2 linked regions of the Homo sapiens genome follow. The protein of the gene in region 1 purifies or fractionates together with the protein of each later gene. This does not show direct contact. Each region holds a gene or a part of one and is shown in the gene's direction. Other genes may lie near its edges.

Region 1 (3,500 bases):
GATGAAATTTTCTTGATTTCTTTTTTGGATAGTTTGTTGTTAGTGTATATTGTATTTTTATATGTTGATTTTATATTCTGCAACTTTTTTGAATTTATTAGTTTTAACATTTTTGGTGGAGTCTTTAAAGATTAAGGATTTTTATATATAAGCTCATGTCACCTGCAGACAGACAATTTTACCTCTTTCTTTCTGGTTTGGATGCTTTTTGTTTTTATTTCTTTTTCTTACTTAATTGCTCCAGCTAGGACTTCCATTACTATAATGAACAGAAGTGGTGAGAATGGGCATCTTTGTCTTATTCCTGATCTTAGAGGAAAAGGTTTAGCTTTTGACTGTTTGAGTATGATGTTAGCTGTGGGCTTGTCACATATAGCCTTTATTATGTTGAGGTATATCCCTTTTATACCTAATTTATTGAGAGTTTTTATCATGAATGGGTTTATTATGTTGAGGTATATCCCTTTTATACCTAATTTATTGAGAGTTTTTATCATGAATGGGTGTTGAAATTTGTTAAGTGCTTTTTCTGGATTTATCAAGATGATATGATTTCTATCCTTCATTCTATTAATGTGGCATATCTCATTTATTGATTTGCATATGTTGAACCATCCTTGCATTCCACAGATAGATCCTACTTGATCATGGTATATAATCTGTTTAATATGCTGTTGAATTCAGTTTGTTAGTATTTTGTTGAGAATTTTTGCATCTATGTTCATCAGAGATATTGACCTGTAATTTTGTTTTCTTCTAGTGTCCTTGTCTGGTTTTGGTAGCAGGGTAATACCACCCTTATAAAATGAGTTTGGAAGTGTTCCATTCTCTTCAATTTTTGGAAGAGTTTGAGAAGGATCGGTCTTAATTCTTCTTTGAAGAAAGTTTGCTAGAATTCACCATTGAATCCATCAGGTCCTAGGCTTTTCTTGTTGGGAGGTTTTTGATTACTGATTGAGCCTCCTTACTCATATTAGTATGTTCAGATTTTCTATTTCTTCTTCATGATACAGTCTTGGTAAGCTGTATATGTCTAGAAATTCATCCATTTTTTTCTAGATTATCCAATTTGTTGATGTATAGTTGTTCATAGTAGTCTCTTAGGATCCTTTGTTTTTTCTGTAGTATAAGTTATAATGTCTCCTCTTACATTTCTGATTTTACTTGAGTCTTTTCTTTTTTTCTTATTCTAATTAAAAGTTTGTCACTTTTTTATCTTGTCAAAAAAAACAACTCTAAGTTTCATTGATCTTTCCTGTTATTTTTCTAACTTCTATTTCAGTTATTTCTGCTCTGTTATTATTTCCTCCCTTCTGCTAACTTTGGGCTTAGTTTGTTCTTTTTCTAGTTCCTTGAGGTATAAAGTTAAGATTTTTGAGATTTTTCTTTTTTCTTAATGTAGACATTTATCACCATAAACTTTCTTCTTAGAACTGCTTTTGCTGCATCCCTTAAGTTTTAATATGTTGTGTTTCCCTTTTCATTTGTCTCAAGTTTTTTTTATTTCCCTTTGACTCATTGGTTGTTCAAGAATATGTTGTTCAATTTCCACATTCATGTGAATTTTCCAATTTTCCTCCCTTTACTGATTCTAGTTTCATAATGTTGTAGTTGAAAAGAACTTGAGGCCAGGCACACTGGCTCACGCCTATAATCCTTGCACTTTGGGAGGCTGAGGTGGGTGGATCACGAGGTCAGGAGTTCAAGACCAGCCTGGCCGACTTGGTCTCTACTAAAAATACAAAAAAAAAATAGCTGGGCGTGGCAGCGGGTGCCTTTAATCCCAGCTACTCAGGAGGCTGAGGCAGAGAATTGTTTGAACCCGGGAGGCGGAGCTTGCAGTGAGCCAAGATCACGCCACTGCACTCCAGCCCAGGTGACAGAGTGAGACTCCGTCTCAAAAAAAAAAGAAAGGATACTTGAGGTGATTTCAGTCTTACATTTGTTAAGGCTTGTTTTGTGGCCTAACATATGCACTATCCTGGAGAATATTCTCTGTGCACTTGAAAAGAATGTATATTCTGCTGCTATTGGATAGAATGTTCTGTATATGTCTGTTAGGTCCATTTGTATGGTGTTGTTCAAGTTTGCTCTTTCCTTACTGGTTTTCTGTCTGGATGATCTATCATTGAAAGTAAGTATTGAAGTCCCTTACTATTATTGTATTGTCGTCTACCTCTTTCTTCAGTTCTGTTAATGTTTGCTTTATACATTTAGGTGCTCTAATGTTGAGTGCATTTATATTTACCAATGTTATATGCTCTTGATGAATTGACACCTTTATCATTGTGTGGTAACTTTCTTTATCCCTTGTGATAGTTTTTTACTTAAAGTCTATTTTGTCTGATATAAATATAGCCACCCCCGGCTGGACATGGTGGCTCACGCCTGTAATCCCAGCTCTTTGGGAGACCAAGGCGGGCGGATCACGAGGTCAGGAAATCAAGACCGTCCTCACTAACATGGTGAAACCCTGTCTCTACTAAAAATACAAAAAATTAGCCGGGTGTGGTGGCAGGCGCCTGTAGTCCCAGCTACTTGGGAGGCTGAGGCAGGAGAATGGCATGAACCCAGGAGGCAGAGCTTGCAGTGAGCTGAGATGGCACCACCGCACTCCAGCCTGGGTGGCAGAGCGACACTCCGTCTCAAAAATAAATAAATAAATATAGCCACCCCTGCTCTCTTTTGGCTACCATTTGAGTGGAATATCTTTTTTTTATCTCTACTTTTAGCCTATGTGTCCTCTTACACACATAGGCCTTTACAGATGGCTTCAGCAGGGGAAGCCCTTACCAGGTAGCTCATCCAGAGATTCTTGGGGGGGCAACTGACAGGTTCTGCAGGTAGGTGGGCCTGGTGCCTTGGTCTTTGGGGGTAGCTTGGAGGCTGGGTCCTCTGCGGCAGGCCTGGCAGTGGAATCCACTAGGGTGGACCTTTTAAGTGGGTCTTCAGGTGAAACACCTGGAGCCCGGTAAGTAGATCTGCAGGAGCCAGCCTGGTGCAGGGGTGGGCCCTACCCTGAGCCTGCAGGGGCTGGCCTGATGCAGGGGTCCACTTGGCTGGGTCTGTGAGAGTGGACCTGGAGCCTTTAAGTTTCTTAAAGACAAGACTGGATCTTATTTCGAACCACCATCACATCTTGTACGGTGTCTGAAGTATATCAGGTGCTTATCAAGTTTATTTGTGTAGAGTCAGCCTTTAAACATTGTTCAGAGGCTTTGATGTAATGCAAAAATAAAATAAACGGAGACAGGTTACCCATGAGGAAATATTTGCTTCCAGATATTGTAGTACATTTCAGAATCAAGAGTATGCCACTGAGCTACAACTCAACAACAAACAAATAGCCTGAATAAAAAATAGGCAAAGAACTTGTATAGACATTTCTCCAAACACAATATAGAAGTGACTAACAAGCATATAAAAAGAGGCTCAGCATCACTAATCATTAGGAAAATGCAAGTCAAAACCACAATGAGGTATCTCCTCACACAGATTAG
Region 2 (3,500 bases), about 92 Mb from region 1:
TGGGGGCCCTAGTCCTGGACGACGAGGGATAATCTACTGCCCCTCTCAGTGCACAGAGGAAAGGGATGTGGGGAAACATGGGGCTGGGGGGCAGGCATTCAGCTGAGCGGCAGCAGCACCTAGGCTGTAGCCATGTCTCTGGGTTTCACCCCAAGAGGAACAAAGTCAGGACATGGCCTCTTGGGTTCCTTGAAAGTTCGCCTAGGCCTGTACAACTCGATGACTTTAGAAGGAAAATTCTGTCTAGGCTCCAGGAGCTTTCAGGCCCTACGCCCCAGAAGTCTGGGACCCAGTTAGGGGTGAGATCTGGAGGTCAGGGCATTTTTTCAGGGTTAGGGACCCCTTGGTTCCTTCTCCCCAATTCCTGTGACCAGGAGCTCTCCTGCCCAGGGGGTAAAGAACTGGAAGAGGAAGAGGAGGCCTCCCCCTCAGCCTCAGCCCCGTTCATGGAGGGAGATGAAAGCTTGTCATGTTCCCTTTGAAAGCGCTGGCAGAGCCTCAGTAGGCCCTGATTGCTGGGCGCTGCCTCCCCTGGGATTCCAGCAGCATTAGGCATAATCCCTGGGCTCAGACGTCCTTTGAAAGGAGGAAGCAAGCATGTTTGCTGGGGCAGAAACGGCAAACAGAGCTGTTTTAGATGTGCAGGTTGGGCCCTCTTTGAAGAGAGACACATGGTTTCTCTGAGGCTGGGGATGTCGCTGCTCACAGCATGGGCCCAAGCTCTGGAGAGGTCTTCAAAGTGCTCACCCTGCTGGGGCAGTGGGTAGAGTTCTGGGCCCCCTTTGGGAGAGAGTATACAGGGAAATCAAGGAAAGGTGATGATGATGATGGGAACTGGAACATGCAGGCACCGGGGAGAAGACTCGGGCCACTGAGGAGCAGTCTCCCCTCCTGTCTGCACATGGGTGGCAGCTGTGTTCTGAGGACCCCAGCCCTGGGAAGCTGACAGTGAAACACGGAACAGACACACTGATGAGGGCAATCCAGTCGGCCTCCTCCCCTGAGGGCAGAATAGAAAGATGTGCGGTTCAACAGACGCTTCTAGAGCCTCCAGTGGGGCAGCACAGCATTGTGGTTAATCACAGTCCTGGGAGGGGCCGAGCCCTGCCATTTACTATCCTTGGTGCTAACCTCCTGGTTTAGTTTTCTAAGTCTGGAATACACATAATCATGTTTACCTCAGCATAACTGTTGCGATCGTGTGTATGGAAGCTTTACAAGTGTTTGCTCGTCCTTAAGAATGCGCTATTTCAATCAGGTGTTAATACTTAAGTAGCATCATGATTGCTGGAGGGAAGCCTGAGGGGCAGCGTGCACAAGGGCCTGAGTGAGGATCACCGCAGGTAGACAGAGGATGCATGGACCAGTGTGGCCAGAGGCTGGGCTGGGGGGTAAGGGGGGAGGTGAGGCTGGGAGTGCCCTTGAATGTCAGGCCCAGCAGGGTTTTATTTGTGAGCAGGTGGGTCCCAGCTGGGGTTTTTGGGCAGGGAAACAGCATGAGTTGGTGTGTCATAGGAAGGTGGCCCTAGCCGCAGCGTGCAGGGGTCAGGGAGAGCCTCGCAGCAGAGGTGCAGTGGGACTCAGCAACAGCAGCAAGGACTTGGGTCAAACATGGAAAACTCAGAGAGGCTGTATAGTCCTCTTGCTGAAGGGCTTTGCACTAGGACCATGCTTTGCTGAGTGGCTGGTAAGTGATGAGACCACCTGGTCATGCTCCTGTGCCTGGGATTGGGGAGGAGGGAGGAGGAGCAGCCAGAGAGAGGAGAGCCGCCTGAGGTGGGGTTCTCACTCTCCCTGTCTCCTTGTCATCAGGCTTTGGCCAAGTCCAGTGCCAGCTCAGAACCAGTGCTTCTGGGCAGACTGAAGAGGGTTTCATCTGGGACGGCCTGAAGGGCTCAGGGCTAGTTTGATCAGCTGGGGCTTATCCACACAGTTACTTGGGTCCTTCCAGTGTGGAGAAGAGGGCCTCGCTTGATGTCCTGAGCATTGGTTCCTTTAGAAGTGCTCTGTTCTTGCTCTAGCTGTGGGGAAATATACCAGCCTGTCTCTTTGGTTGTCCATGCTGGCTCCCTCTTAGGAGAAACCAGCCAAAGAAGGATCCAGCTGGGTCCTAGGATAAGAGATATACGTACATGGGTTCAAATTCCGACTTGGCCACTAAACAGCCATGCAGCCTTGGGCAGCAAGATGATTCATCTTTCAGAGCCTCAGTTTCTGCAGCTACAATAGGGGATGGTTTTACCCATTTGCCAGTGTTGTAAGCCTGGGAATAATCTGTGTAAAGTGCCTAGCAGAGCGCCTGGCACATAGTGGCACTTGTCATAGTCACACTGGTCTGGTCCCCCTGGGGACCTCCTGGGAATCCATCCATGTCCAAGCTCTTTTTCTGATTGGGAGGGGCTCCACCCGCCTCCCCTCCTAACTGCCCTTCTGCTCCCGAGTTAACCGGAGGCCCAGCCTCAGAGGGAGAGGGGAGGAACTGGTGGCATTTCTCCCACTTCCACCCACCATACTTGCTGCAGAGCAAGCAAGGATGAGGCCCCACTCTGGGCTGTCTCTGAAACAGATGTGGAGTCTTTAATACCTTTTAATCAGACTATTAGCGATGGAAACTCAGCCTCTCAGTGGCAGCTTTCCCCCACTTAGGAGCTGTTTGTTAAGACTTTACATGAAGGGAAAACAAATGATACTGTGGTAATGTGGTGAATTTCAGCATGTTCCCTTAATGCTGTGCTCTGGGCTCTCCCTGGCTTCCCCTTCTCAAGACGCTCCCCTGAGATACAGAGCAGTGGAAGGAGGGCAGGGCTAAAGCTGCCCCACCCTTCCAAGCGTAGCACCCCACCCCACACACACACTGGAGCCCTGTCATGAGAAAGATGGTCCCAGAAAGGATGAGATTGGGAATGGAAAGAAGAAGAGAAGGCAATCCAGCCCCCAGAGCCAAGTCCCGGTGGGCCAATAGCTTCCCAGATGGGTCTTTAGTGCCCACCTCATGTAGACGGCCACACTGAGGCAGGACTGGGTGGAGGCTTGGTCTTAGCACTGTGGCCAGCTCAGTCAGCACAGTGAACAGGGAAGGCATGGAACTGGAAGGAGGGGCAGCAGCCATGGCAGTTTTCACAGGCTTTCTCCTGGCAGCCAGCCGCCAGCCTTACTGCCTAGTGGCTTCCAGAGCTAGGCTCTGATATTAGTCATCGCTCCTAGGGAAGAAAGAAACCAAACATTTCTTGAGCCCTAGCTCTGTGACAGCCAGGATAGTAAGTGCTTTATATGTGTGTTATTTAACTTTGCCATACCCATCTACTAATCTTAAACCAGTGTATTTCAAGCAAGCCATTAGGTCATGAAATGAATTCTGTGAGTCATGACCAGGATTTTTAAAAAAATGGAATGGAACAGAGCAAAGAATATCAGAATGCATTACACTAAGTATTGTTTTATGAAACTTCTTTTCACTCTGTGTGTGTGTGTGTGTGTGTGTGTGTGTGTGTGTGTGTGTG

Evidence for each region. Proteins that work in one complex are often made in the same cells at the same time.
Region 2: the proteins of SORT1 (region 1) and TMEM9 purify together in Homo sapiens (affinity purification with mass spectrometry; one large-scale study listed by BioGRID and IntAct). This does not show direct contact.

Annotation. Positions count from the first base shown.
Region 1 is NC_000001.11:109,328,419-109,331,918, reverse strand, and holds part of SORT1 (sortilin isoform 1 preproprotein), read left to right. Parts: intron 1-3,500.
Region 2 is NC_000001.11:201,137,475-201,140,974, reverse strand, and holds part of TMEM9 (proton-transporting V-type ATPase complex assembly regulator TMEM9 isoform a precursor), read left to right. Parts: intron 1-3,500. UniProt on the Homo sapiens protein: Transmembrane protein that binds to and facilitates the assembly of lysosomal proton-transporting V-type ATPase (v-ATPase), resulting in enhanced lysosomal acidification and trafficking.